Linked DNA regions of Homo sapiens. The protein of the gene in region 2 purifies or fractionates together with the protein of the main gene of each other region. This does not show direct contact. Each region holds a gene or a part of one and is shown on either strand. Other genes may lie near its edges.

The links. Proteins that work in one complex are often made in the same cells at the same time.
Region 1: the proteins of TUB (region 2) and NRXN3 purify together in Homo sapiens (affinity purification with mass spectrometry; one large-scale study listed by BioGRID and IntAct). This does not show direct contact.
Region 3: the proteins of TUB (region 2) and MYEF2 purify together in Homo sapiens (affinity purification with mass spectrometry; one large-scale study listed by BioGRID and IntAct). This does not show direct contact.
Region 4: the proteins of TUB (region 2) and RPF2 purify together in Homo sapiens (affinity purification with mass spectrometry; one large-scale study listed by BioGRID and IntAct). This does not show direct contact.

What each region holds. Positions count from the first base shown.
Region 1 is NC_000014.9:78,964,373-78,967,872, reverse strand, and holds part of NRXN3 (neurexin 3), read right to left. Parts: intron 1,849-3,500; coding exon 1,467-1,848; intron 666-1,466; coding exon 475-665; intron 1-474. UniProt on the Homo sapiens protein: Neuronal cell surface protein that may be involved in cell recognition and cell adhesion. May mediate intracellular signaling. Functions as part of a trans-synaptic complex by binding to cerebellins and postsynaptic GRID1.
Region 2 is NC_000011.10:8,101,711-8,105,210, reverse strand, and holds part of TUB (tubby protein homolog), read right to left. Parts: 3' UTR 1,717-3,500; coding exon of another isoform or gene 1,694-1,716; 3' UTR 1-1,693. UniProt on the Homo sapiens protein: Functions in signal transduction from heterotrimeric G protein-coupled receptors. Binds to membranes containing phosphatidylinositol 4,5-bisphosphate. Can bind DNA (in vitro). May contribute to the regulation of transcription in the nucleus.
Region 3 is NC_000015.10:48,134,132-48,137,213, reverse strand, and holds the end of MYEF2 (myelin expression factor 2), read left to right. Parts: 3' UTR 1-250; coding exon of another isoform or gene 251-531; 3' UTR 532-2,229; coding exon of another isoform or gene 2,230-2,330; 3' UTR 2,331-2,582; downstream 2,583-3,082. Other genes in the region: SLC24A5 (sodium/potassium/calcium exchanger 5), read right to left, coding at 251-531, 2,230-2,330, 2,676-2,956. UniProt on the Homo sapiens protein: Transcriptional repressor of the myelin basic protein gene (MBP). Binds to the proximal MB1 element 5'-TTGTCC-3' of the MBP promoter. Its binding to MB1 and function are inhibited by PURA.
Region 4 is NC_000006.12:111,016,538-111,020,037, reverse strand, and holds part of RPF2 (ribosome production factor 2 homolog), read right to left. Parts: intron 1-3,500. UniProt on the Homo sapiens protein: Involved in ribosomal large subunit assembly. May regulate the localization of the 5S RNP/5S ribonucleoprotein particle to the nucleolus.

The DNA of each region.
Region 1 (3,500 bases), on a different chromosome or scaffold from region 2:
GTTACCAATAATATGCTGAGGGATATACAGACATGCCATCAAAACTTCTCACGACCTATACAGAAACTAACAATTATTATCCTCATTTTGCAAAGAAAAGTAAATGTAAGCTGAACAAGGCTAAGACAGTTTACTGATGACACCAGACATTAAATGATTCAGCTGAAATTCCAAAGCCTATATTCCTTCCTCTGTATTACGGCCCTTCCCACACTTTGACACTCATCCTGTCATCTCTCAGCCCCCACAGCATGACATTCCCGAGGTTATCAGAGAAAATGAACCATTTCTTGATGAGTAGTCTAAGTAAAAACGGAAAAAATTGCATTACAGGATAATTCAACATTGTTAAAACAGGATATGGATGATGTATCAAAAATGCATGGCACTCTGAACCTGTGGTTTGCCTCTGGAAATAGTCTATCTATTGTAAGAAAAGCTCTATTAAAAACTAAATTTCTTTACAAGGTTTACCTTTCAAATCCAGATTTTTGGCACCATTGATAACCTGAGTGACCACTTTGGTGTCCACTTTCAGGCTATGAGTGTTACTATTGTCCCGAGTGATGACGACATTGTGCCACTGGTTGTCATTCAGGGGGCGGTCACTGTTGCCTTTGATCACATTGGGACCGTTTCCGAGGTCAAAAACGTAGTGTATATACCTAGGAAGAAAAAAAAAAAAAAACAATAATTGGAAAATCCCCGAAGTGGTTTAATGGCTATATGTGTGTAACTGACATAGTGGGCTTCAAATCCCCCATGCTAAACTGGCATAATGCAGGAATAATTTAAATCTTGATATGAGGTTACAAGAATAGTCAGATTTTATTCTATCATGCTTCACTATAATTCCATACTCATCGAGTCCACTTCATTAACACTACCTACTAATACTCTCCAGAGTCAAAGTAGCACAGGTTGTACACTACAAAACATAAGGGGGTGACTTTTAAATTCATCATCAACCATTAATCTGTTTTGGTTTTTGTTTTGGTTTTTTGTTTTGACTATTTTCTAATACATGGTAGTAAAATGTCTTGAGGAAAGGGCAGCTTCTAAAAACTTGCATATATGGGCTAATGGTAGGATTTAAAATATTTATGTTTCATCTTTTGGTATAAATTGGGTGGTTGTAGTTAGTAATACTCAAGAATTAGATGCAATACAAATCATAGCCCTCTTTTGCAAAAATAAGCTTTTCTTCAATAGTTTTAAAGGGCTACATTTCATAGGAAAAAGTCTGTTAGTGTTGAGTTAGTGGAAGACCTTTAAATTAAATCATGAGCCTCTCTCCTTTCCAGACCTAATAATTTTATGGATCCATTTAATCAAGGAAGATGCGAGAATGTGTCAGGAATGGAGGGTAGGGAGTAGAATAGACAAGTTATTTTTATGTCCATATTTTACGTAGAGCTTCAGTAGATTAAAGGTGTCCAACATAAGTCGTGATCCCTTCTACTTACCCCTTGACAAGCTCGACTGCAATGAAGTCATTGCCATCACCACTATTGAAGAGAATGAAGCCATCTGGTGAGGTGGTCTTGAACTGGAAGAAGAGGTGCATGGAGGTGTAAGCCTGAAGAGTGGCAAGGCTCAGGTAGCTGCTCTTGGTCTTAAAGGTGACAGGGTCAGCGATGATGTTCCTCAGTCCAAAACGAGCCTTCAGCTCACAATAATCAATGTCACCATTTTTGCACAAGTCAATGTAGAGAAGGCCATTAAACATGAGGCTCTGCAGATGGCCAATAAAGCTGGAGGGGACAACGGAGATGTAGCGTTTCTCAGTCATGATTCCCGTTTCAATGTTGTGGAACTCCAAACGGGTATGGTCTCCCACCATTGTACCTGTGAAAATTGTAAATGAGGTACAAACAGAAAAGTTACCATCATTTATCACAGCACCCTCAAGTATATTTTTTGGGTGTAACCTGTTTCCACACAGAATATTCAGCTTTCTTGGGTGAGTTCAAGAAAACCAAATATTCAATATGGTAGATACCTTACTTGGCCTCAATCAGGCATTGCCCAAATTACATGCTGTCACGCAGCTGCTCAGCACGGCTCATCATATAAGGGGAAATATGAGGTCATGAGTAACCCAGGCTAAAGGATAAAACTATTGATATTCTCCATTCAGGAGAATCACTGGACACTAATACACACTATAAGAAGAAAGGCCTTTGTTGCTCTGACCCTTGTAAAGACACAACACACAAGTCTTGGGCATCACTACCAAGTATTTTTTCTCGTAATAACTCTCCACTTAGTACTCGTGGGAAGGATTCTATTATAGACTTATCAGTTGAGTTTACCTGCCCAGCAACTGTTACTTTATCTTATAATAACACGTAATTTTTCTTTAGGAAGCTACCCACCCCTCTTGACCTTTCAACCACCTGGACTGGATAAAGTTGACCCTAATCAAGCTACTCAGCCTAGACCACTCAATGTACTTTACCCCCCTAACTGTCACAGACTTTGGACTACAGACTTAAAAAGCGGTCATTACACTTTAGGGTGTATCAGAATCACCTGGGGGGCTTAGGCCCTCAGAGTTTAGAATTCAAAAGTCTGGGGTGAGGCCTGAGAATCTGCATTTCTAACAAGTTTCACAGTGATGCTCTTGTGGCTGATTTAGGGACCACCCTTAGAACTGGCAACAACCCAAGCCATCCCGGCCACACTCAGTTCCAGAGCTCTTGCTGGTACACTTAGGAAAGAGGATTCTTTGCAAGCAAGGACTGCTGGAGGGGTAAGAAGAAAGCTTTGAGTCCCTAGAGGCTATAAGAAAATCAGAGGGATCAGAGGACTAGCAACCCAGAAGACAATTACCAAATGAAGAGAATCATCTGTGCTGTCCTTTGAGACTCTGGATCAAGCCAGGCACCTCCCGGCTTTTTCAAACTGTGTGGCAATAGACTCCCTTTCATGCTTAAAGCGTTTGAGTTGGGTTTCTGACATTCACAACGGAAATATCTTCAGCTGTTACAAATGAACTATTTAGAACTTGTATTACCTATTTTACCTAGAAGTGGTGAGTGACTAGGGCAGAGGGGATAAGGAGGGCTTGAAAAAAAAATACAAAGAGACTGGAAATTTTAATAACAAAATAAAGAAAAACATCATTAATGTGGCCAGAGTAGAAATTGGCTTCCTCAACATTTATATAGAAAAATCATGTTAAAACATAACAAACCATGTTCTACTGCCAAGCATTAGAGGGGGAATTCTTTCTTCCTGTCCTCTCTTGTTACCTTCTACATTGAAAAAACTCCATTAGCAAGACTGATAGCATCTCTTTATTTCCTCTTTAACAACTTTCCTGAAGAAGTGACATAATCAGAAATATTAAGGATGATCTGCAAAGAGAAGCTGTGTATGCTTAGCTCAGCCCCTAACACCTCCTGTTTCTCTTTGCTGGAGCAAGCTGCCTTCAGAAATGTCCATTCTACTGCATGCATCCATAGAATGGGTGTTACAGGAGCAAGCCTTGCTTC
Region 2 (3,500 bases):
GCTGGGGTAAGGAATTAGAGAAGGGAAGGCCAGTGTTACTGCAGTAAGAGAAAACCAGGAAGTCCATCTAGGAGATGAAATTTGTGCTTGCATAACAGAGCCATGGAAATGGCTATCCCAGCATCTCCCCTCACTGCAGACTCCATTGTAAGCAAAGCATGGACCTTTTTCTTTGAAACCAACCCTGTCACTTGTTAAATTTAGAATTACCTCTAAATGCTAAGTTTATTTAAGAGGTAAATGTCCTGCTATTTTCAGAATGGAGAAAAAAAAAAAAAAACAACCTTCTGCTTCTAGAATTTTGTGCCCTACTTGTCACTGAAGGAGGCAGGCTCCGAAAGTTCTCTTATAGCTTCTGATTATCACAGTCCTGGCTTCCAACACCTGTGTTCGCCATAGATCTGGACATTATGTGCTTCCTCTGAACTAGTGTCTTGATTTTTAAGGCACATTCACTAGAGTATGTTCAATTTCAACCAAAAGCATACGTGCAACATACCAGTTTTTTCAGGCAATGCAGAGCGGGAACTGAAAAGCTAACAACATTCTTGGATGGTGTCCTCTGACTCAGAACCCTGAGAGAAAAAGCTGGTATCTTCCCAGGTATACCTTCTGTTCAGAGAGCATGAGATGAATGGACAAAATCCACAGGCGATCATAACAACATCCTTATTCCTTTCCTACTCATTCATTCTCAGGAATATAATCACAATTAAGAAACCTCAGTTGATTGCTGATTGCCCTTTTCCCCAAATAAACACACAGACGCACAGACACACACATACACAGACGGACACAGAGCACCTTGGAGCCAGAAGGAAAGGAAAGCTAGACTTGGAGAAGAGTTGGGGAAGTGAACTTCACCACTCTGCAGAATTGTTCTGGGGCAGAGGGTGTAGAGTTTTGGGGTGTGGCCCCAGAAGCGGTTACAGAGAAGCTGCCTAAACTCACTCCCAACTGCCCAATACCATTAGGGACTGCTCATTCTGTCATTAATTCCCTGCCCAAAGACCATCCATCCAGGTAGAGGGTATGAAGGGCAAGAACTCTTATTGTGGGAGAGGCTGAACCCAGGTGGTTTCTAGGGGCCCTAGCAGCTTTACGAGTCCATGCACCCATGGCCCCAGGGCCAGTGGTCAAGGAAAACCAGGATCACCAGGAGTGCACTCAGCTACTGATGCTTGTCATTCAATGCCTGACAGAGTTTTGTGGCTGAGGCTATCCTTCTCCACACTTAGGCTAGAAAGCTCAGCCTGTCTTTCCTGACTCCACCAAAAGATCCAGCCAACTCCCTCTTTGTGCTACAGGAGAAAGCAGAGGCCAAGAGTTTTCCTTTGTGCTTCTGATTTTTCCACTGCCACCGGGGTCTCCGTCTCACCAGAACTCAGAACCAGCCTGTTCTATCTTAAAATCATAGATCCAGAGAAATAGCTTGACCTAACATTAGAGACGATCTAGTTTCCATCATCTCAAATGTCACCATGAAGATCTCTTCTCCTTAAAGGCAGGGAAGGGCTAAACTGGAACTATAGAAAGGAGGATGGCACCATGGTATCTCGCCAGCGCTGGCACAAAGTTCTAGTGCCCTCTAGAAACTGGACCATGTTGCAAAAGCTAATCGTTGGAGGGGGTCTCTCACAGAGATGTACGGCCGAGGTGTGGGCAGATCCTGCTAGGACAGGTATGCCTTGCTTTAAGCATTCAACATAGGAAAATCTAGATTACAAAGAAATGAGAGCATATTACTTCTACTTAAGTCAAAACAAGTCCTTCACCTATAAAGCCTAACACGTTTAAAATACAACTTCTATTTTAAAAAATTTCTACTTAGCTTTTCCAAACATCTACTCTAAAGCAAGGTACGACCCCTGCTTGCTTCCCACCAATTTCAGATCTCTATCTGGGCAAGAAGCCTCCACCAGGGTAAATGACAAATGAGCAAAAGCTTGAGCTTACAGTTCCCAAGCCTGCAGGGTGGATGGTGCCATCCAAGGAGAAATAGCGGTAGTGGAGGGAGTTAGGCTCAGGCCCAGCCCCAGAACCTTTATGCACTCTCTCCCACCTAGACCGAGAAGTGTGCAGCAGCCGTACTAAGGCCTGCTTACTGCTGAGTAGCCCTCGCGGAGGGGCCAGACACAGGCCAATCCTGGATCATACTCACGTGCAAAAAGCCAGACAACTTTCAACAGGGAACTGCCTGATTTCCTACTGGAATGGTTTCAATCTAATTTATCAACTCTGATGCTTCTAAGTCTCTGAATCGGGGGAAGTGGGGAGGGCATGCAGAATGGGCCCCCAGGAGGCCAGAGATACTAGTTTCTTGGGGGACAGTGGGAACAAAGAAATCAAGAGAACTTGAAGTTCTGAATGCTGCCATTAACCAGCTAGGTGACCCAGGGCAAGCCCCATTTTCTGAGTGTGACTCACCTAAAGCAACAAGGTTGTACTAGATTCCTAAGGGTCCTGCCACTGCTGATCTCTTGTGGTTCTAAAATATTCCCTGCTTTATTCACCCTGTCCCATTCCCTCCCAAGAACCTACATGGTTACCAACCATGACTTGGCTGACAGCAGTGAGAAAGTTGGGTCTTTCCAGAGAGAGAGAGAGAGGAGAGATTCTTCAAGGAGCATGCCATGGCTTGGGAATGGTTCTCTGGCAGCAGGATTCCCAGGCATGCCTAGCTGTGTGCAGTCAGGCTGGTGACCTGGACCCCATTTGTGTTTCCTGGGGGTTGTGCTGGGCTGCTCAGCAGAGAGCTCCTGGGGAAGCTGACAGGACTCCCAGAACAACCCTGATCCAGGGACCCTGTTCATGCACTTCTGCATGCTGAGCCTGTGTCTTGCAGGGCCCATCCACCAAGACAGCCCTGAGAGCTGGGTTCCTACTGCCTCTGTGAGACACAGCAAACCTGGAGAAATCAAATGCGCTAGAAACCTAGCCACCAGCTGATTCCCATAGCCACAGCAAGCCAGGCACCTGCAATCCTGACAGGGTCCTGCCACTTACCTGTCCCCACCACCCTCCCAACTTCTCTCAGGCTTGAGTGAGGCCTTCTGAAGTTGAAGGGCTTTCTGCAGTTGTTTAAGGGCCAGGCTTGGCCACCAAGCCCTTTGCTACATAAAGTTGATGTGGCCTTCATACATACACACATTCACTGTGCCCCTACCTGCTGGAGTACCCATTGCCATCTGACTCCTTGGCTGAGCGGACGACTGGGCCACAGCAGCCCTGCAGTGTGCTTCCTCTCCCTCTATGCCTCTTGCGGCCTTCCCAGCTGAAGAGGTTGCTCAGCTTGGTAAGTACGACTACAACACACTACTACCCCAAGGGTGGGAGTGTGTGTTGATCTCGTGGCATGGAAAGAATTATTCTCATCCCTTCACACCCACCCACCCGCTCTCCACTACTCCCCTGCCTCAGTAGCAGAGGCAAAGGAGCCAGTTCCTGGCTGGCTGGGCCAGGGAGCCCACTGAGGGCCAAAGCTTCATCTGGCGGAAGGC
Region 3 (3,082 bases), on a different chromosome or scaffold from region 2:
CTGTCCCATTTGTGAACCACAGTCACACTTTATTTTTCTCTTTTTATGGTACTTAACGTTCATACTTTAGCTATTTTGTATTTCCTGTGATATTGGAAGTTCCTTAAAGGTAGGGACTTGGTCTTTATCATTTCTGAGTCTTCACAGTCTTTTTTACATAAAAAGCACACAATACTTGCTGAATTGAAATGAAATTTTAAAGTTTTTCCTTTGCGAATAGACTTAATAATGGGCAAGATTTAGTGATTACCTTCAGAAACCTGACTAAGGCCATGTAAACTTATAGAGAGCTGAGAGTAGCCAGAATCTTCATAAAATATTCCACTATCAGTTCTTGATTGCCGACGAATGAATGGTTGACCTTCATCTTCCCAGCCCATCAGTGGCTGTTGTTCACTTCTCTCCATAGCTTTGGCAAGACAGGCGCAGCAAGGACTGCATTTCTTTATAATATATTGGTTAATTTTAATGTCAAAACACAGCACCAAAACATACAATCCATATATCAAAAGCAGTAAAGCCCCTTCATACCTACAAAAGAGAAATTTGTGTTTTTAAATTAAAAGTGAAAGTCATTTTAGAGTTGATAGCTTTTGGGCAGTATCTATTGAATGATTTTCTAACAAAAGTAGCCATAGAACAATCAAACATTTCTAGATATTTTTTGTTTTGTAGATTTGTCCAGACTTGATTACAGCATTATTATGTTTATTGATAAAAGCTGGACACTTCTGTGTTGTTTTTTTTTTTTTAAAAACAAGATCAACAAACTCGTTTTTACTTGTAGATTCCTTCCAAATGATAGGTATAAAAATGCAAGGAAAATGATAATTGGAGATTTTCAAAATAAATGTAAAATTAATAAATAGTGGTGAACATTTTCTGCCTCAGCTCATTGGCATAATACATTCCCCAACATACATAATAATTATAAAATAATATAGTAACTGTTAAGTTATTTCAACTGTCCAAGTTTTCTGGTATAGGAACTTTGTGTAAAATATTACTCAGATATGGGAGGCTTAGGCTGGGATTTTTCAGTTTGTCATACAGAGCATTTTTAATGATTTGAATGTAGCTGAATTTGGCTTACAGTCACAAGAAAACAAGATGTTCTAAAATATAAAATTATACCCTTGGAACCAAGAACTGTTTCCCTGTACTCTGGCAGTTAGCTAATGCCATCACATTTGAACCTTGCATTTACCTTTTATAGCCAGTGAATCTCTGTCTGCTGTATCTTAAAGAACAGTTCTGATTTCCCTAATGGAGGAAGAATTAGCTTGGATACTCTCACAGTCACTATCCCTTACAGACAACTGCTGAGTTCTAGAAGGATTTCTATTCTACCAACACAGTGTCTTAGGGAGACGGACTAGAGGACAGGATGATTAGTTTAGAAATTATGCTTCTGGCTAGGTTTTAAGTTTCTTGATAGCAGGTATTACGCCGTGCTGCAAGGTTATGGTTCTCCAGATGGACACCATTACATTTTTTTTTTTTCATATTTTTCTGGTGTCCTCTGGAGTTATGCAATGTATATAACCTGTGTAGCTGTGTTTTACATTTCATTATCCCTTATGATATCTAGCATAGTGAGAAGGACCTAGTAGGTGCCTGCTGCTTACTAGTTGAAAAAGTTAGTATCTGTCCACTCAGTCACCACCTTTTTCATTTTCTTGGACCAGCTAGGCACAGAGAGATTGTAAGGAAAGCAAACAATTTTTAATATGAAAAGCTAAGCATTGTTATTTCTTAGAGGAAGGCTATAGTTTCTCCTGAATGAGCATCAGAAGTTTGGAGGAATTTAAAAAGACTTCTTTTACTTCCTCTACCATCCTTCTCCAGTCTTTTGTGGCCATGAACACTTCTAACCAAGGCAAGGTGAGCAGTAACCCAGCAGAAGAAAAAGTCAACTGTTGTGGCTTTAATGGACAACAGGAGTTGGGAAACTTTCTGAATAGGCAGCCAGTGGGGAGAAGGAAAAGTGGTGGTCTCCAGTGACTAGTGAGAGAAAAAAGGAGACTGTGAAGTGATTAAGAAGAAATTGCAAACTAGTGAGAAGAACTCAATCAGCAATTGTGATGAGGTTAACTCACAGACCTGTTGGAATATGGTATAGAAGTGGCAGATTAAGTGACTGAAATAACATTTCTGAAAAAAAATTACTGAACCATCAGAAATTCATAAAATCTCTAATTTTTACATAAGAATTATTTTCAAGCTTACCAGTAAACTTGGTTGTCATATATTATACCAAGAACTGCTGCTGCACTAATTGTGTACGCTGCACAGTCTCTGAATAGGGGCCAACATGATAGTGTTGAGACCTGTAATATGGTAAGTTATTATTTCCATTACATTGTAACTTCTTCAAGTACAATCCTTAGTATAATACTAAAATTGTTTATATATTTGTAGTTAAATATTGTTATCTTTTGCATATTGCTTAGAGAAAAAAATGTAAAATTGTGTTCTAACTTACACAGACTTTCATAAATCTGACCAAGAGCTATTTGTGGATTAACATTAAATTGAATACATGTTGTTTTTCTACTGATTAATAAATTTGATTGCACATATTATTAGTGCCCTGTTGTCCATCCCAGACGACGAACAGTTATCTTTAGAATTTTTTAAGACAATACATTTTGTTGAATGGTTTTGTTACATACCGTATTAGATAGCAAACCACAGGCAGCACAGATGCCAAGGAGATTATAAATTGCAGATCCAAGGATGGTGCTAATGCCAATATCTCCCTTTGTGATAAATACACCTATGTGCAAGATAGTACCAGCTAAGTTAGTGTTAACTTGAAGAAAATAAAAATCACACTGAGTAAGCAAGAAGTATAAGGAGCAATATTTACCTAGGAAAGCAGTAACTAATTCAGGAGCTGAACTGCCCGCTGCCATGAAAGTTGTGCCTGCAACATCCTGAGACAATCCAAGGGCTGAACATAAATGAAATGATTGTTATGCCTAATAAAGTGAAAGAGTATGTCTTTACAACTAAACACAATAGATACTCAAAGCTACAGCTTCACATAAAACCACTATTAAACTAGAAAAATAAAATA
Region 4 (3,500 bases), on a different chromosome or scaffold from region 2:
GAGGCTGAGGCAGGAGAATGGCATGAACCCGGGAGGCAGAGGCTGAAGTGAGCTGAGATTGCGTCACTGCACTCCAGCCTGGGCAACATAGCGAGACTCCGTCTCAAAAAAAAAACAAAAGAAAGAAAAGAAAGGTGTTCCAGATTTCTGGTTTTTTTCAGAGTTTGAAATACTTGCATACGTATAATGAGATATCTTGGGGATGAGATCCAAGTCTAAACACAAAATCCATTTATGTTTCATATACAGTTTATATACATAGCCTGAAGGTAATTTTATACAATTTTTATTTTATTTTATTACTTTATGTCTGAGATGGAGTTTCACTCTTGTTGCCCAGGCTGGAGTGCTCGGCTCACTGCAACCTCTGTCTCCCGGGTTCAAGCAATTCTCCAGCCTCAGCCTCCCGAGTAGCTAGGATTACAGGCGCCTACCACCATGCCTGACCAATTTTTGTATTTTTAGTAGCGACGGTGTTATGCCATGTTGGCCAGGCTGGTCTGGAACTACTGACCTCAGGTGATCCACCCGCCTCAGCCTCCCATGTGCTAGGATTACAGGTGTCCAGCCAACATAAGTTTAATTTTGTTTTGTTTTTTTCAGACAGTCTCACTCTGCCACCTAGGCTGGAGTGCAGTGGCACAATCTCAGCTCATTGCAACCTCTGCCTCCCAAGCTGAAGCAATTCTTGTGCCATAGCCGCCTGAGTAGCCGGGATTATAGGCGTGTGGCCCAGGCTCAAGCAATTCTCATGCCACAGCCTCCCAAGTAGCTGGGATTACAGGCGTGCGCCACCATACCCAGCTAATTTTTGTATTTTTTAATAGAGACAGGGTTTCTCCATGTTGGCCAGGCTGGTCTTGAACTCCTCAAGTGATCCGCCCACTCTCTGTAACCTCTGCGTCCTGGGCTCAATTGTCCTGCCTCAGCCTCCTAAGTAGCATGGAGGCCAGTGCCACCATGTCCAGCTAATTTTTGTATTTTTAGTAGAGACAGGTTTCGCTGTGTTGGCCAGGCTGGTCTTGAACTCCTGGCCTCGAGCAATCCACCCACCTCGGCCTCCCAAAGTTCTGGGATTACAGGCATGAGCCACCATGTCCGTCCTGAGTACTTTTTTATATTAGTGATTTTTCATCTTTTATTTCTTGTTCTCTAAATAACAGTCATCTACTGTATAGTATAATACATACTTAGAAGCTCCCAAATCACATATGGAAACTCAAACAGGAGACTTAAGGGGCTTTCGATCTTAACCAGCTAAAAATTACTATAAAGTCTCTAATTACATCTTATGATCATTGGGTATTTTACTGCATTTTGCCTCATTTATTTTTAGTGAGAGGAAAACAGAAAAACAGAAGCGGTGGTATTAATTATATGGAGAAAAAGAACTAAATGTCTCTGATTTAATACAGTTGAGCCCAAGATGGAAATTATCAGCTAAGAGGTGAATATTTAAGTTTCATTTGGACATTCATAGGACATAAAGCTGGTCAGTCATGTATTTTCATTGTGAAGAAAACAAAATAAAAACGATGTACAAAATGCTAGATACAAATGGTTGGACAAACAACACTACTGTACAGAAGACACTGTCAACACCAAGCTGTCAGCTCTCAGGCTGCAACACCAGCCACACCATAGCTCAAAATGTACAGCAAAGTCTAAACTCAATGTACAGAGAAAGGCAATTTGTGGGAGTCAGTGTATTCTTTAGGAAACTGTGGGCTCTGTCAGCCAGTACCAACGCCTTAAAAAAGAGAAGTCACACACTTATCTCAAGAACCACAATTGCCCTCTCCCTCTCCCTCTCCCTCTCCCTCCCCCTCCCCCTCCCCGGTCTCCCCCTGATGCCGAGCCGAAGCTGGACTGTACTGCTGCCATCTCCGCTCACTGCAACCTCCCTGCCTGATTCTCCTGCCTCAGCCTGCCGAGTGCCTGCGACTGCAGGCGCGCGCCGCCACGCCTGACTGGTTTTCGTATTTTTTTGGTGGGGACGGGGTTTCACTGTGTTGGCCAGGCTGGTCTCCAGCTCCTAACCGCGAGTGATCTGCCAGCCTCGGCCTCCAGAGGTGCCGGGATTGCAGACGGAGTCTCGTTCACTCAGTGCTCAATGTTGCCCAGGCTGGAGTGCAGTGGCGTGATCTCGGCTAGCTACAACCTCCACCTCCCAGCCGCCTGCCTTGGCCTCCCAAAGTGCCAAGATTGCAGCCTCTGCCTGGCCGCCACCCCGTCTGGGAAGTGAGGAGCGTCTCTGCCTGGCTGCCCATCGTCTGGGATGTGAGGAGCCCCTCTGCCCGGCTGCCCAGTCTGGGAAGTGAGGAGCGCCTCTTCCCGGCCGCCATCCCGTCTAGGAAGTGAGGAGTGTCTCTGCCCGGCCGCCCATCGTCTGAGATGTGGGGAGCGCCTCTGCCCTGCCGCCCCGTCTGGGATGTGAGGAGCGCCTCTGCCCGGCCGCGACCCCATCTGGGAGGTGAGGAGCGTCTCTGCCCGGCCGCCCCGTCTAAGAAGTGAGGAGCCCCTCCGCCCGGCAGCCGCCCCATCTGAGAAGTGAGGAGCCCCTCCGCCCGGCAGCCGCCCCGTCTGAGAAGTGAGGAGCCCCCCCATCCGGCAGCCGCCCCGTCTGGGAAGTGAGGAGCGTCTCCGCCTGGCAGCCGCCCCGTCCAGGAGGGAGGCGGGGGGCAGCCCCCGCCCGGCCAGCCGCCCCATCCGGGAGGGAGGTGGGGGCGCCTCCGCCCAGCCGCCGCCCCGTCCGGGAGGTTGGGGGCACCTCTGCCCGGCCACCCCTTCTGGGAAGTGAGGAGCCCCTCTACCCGGCCGCCACCCCGTCTGGGAGGTGTACCCAACAGCTCATTGAGAACGGGCCATGATGACGATGGCGGTTTTGTCGAGTGGAAAGGGGGGAAATGTGGGGAAAAGATAGAGAAATCAGATTGTTGCTGTGTCTGTGTAGAAAGAAGTAGACATAGGAGACTCCATTTTGTTCTATACTAAGAAAAATTCTTCTGCCTTGGGATGCTGTTGATCTATGACCTTACCCCCAAGCCGGTGCTCTCTGAAACATGTGCTGTGTCCACTCAGGGTTAAATGGATTAAGGGCGGTGCAAGATGTGCTTTGTTAAACAGATGCTTGAAGGCAGCATGCTTGTTAAGAGTCATCACCACTCCCTAATCTCAAGTACCCAGGGACACAAACACTGCGGAAGGCCGCAGGGTCCTCTGCCTAGGAAAACCAGAGACCTTTGTTCACTTGTTTATCTGCTGACCTTCCCTCCACTATTGCCCTATGACCCTGCCAAATCCCCCTCTGCGAGAAACACCCAAGAATGATCAATTAAAAAAAAAAAAAAGAAAGAAAAAAAAAAAAGAACCACAATTACAGCATGTCATTAACTCTTTAATAAACATAGAATCTGCTTAAGAGTTTTTTGTTTTTTGTTTTTTCAGCGCCCTCACTCTGTTGCCCAGGCTGGAGTGCAGTGGCACAATCATGGCTCACT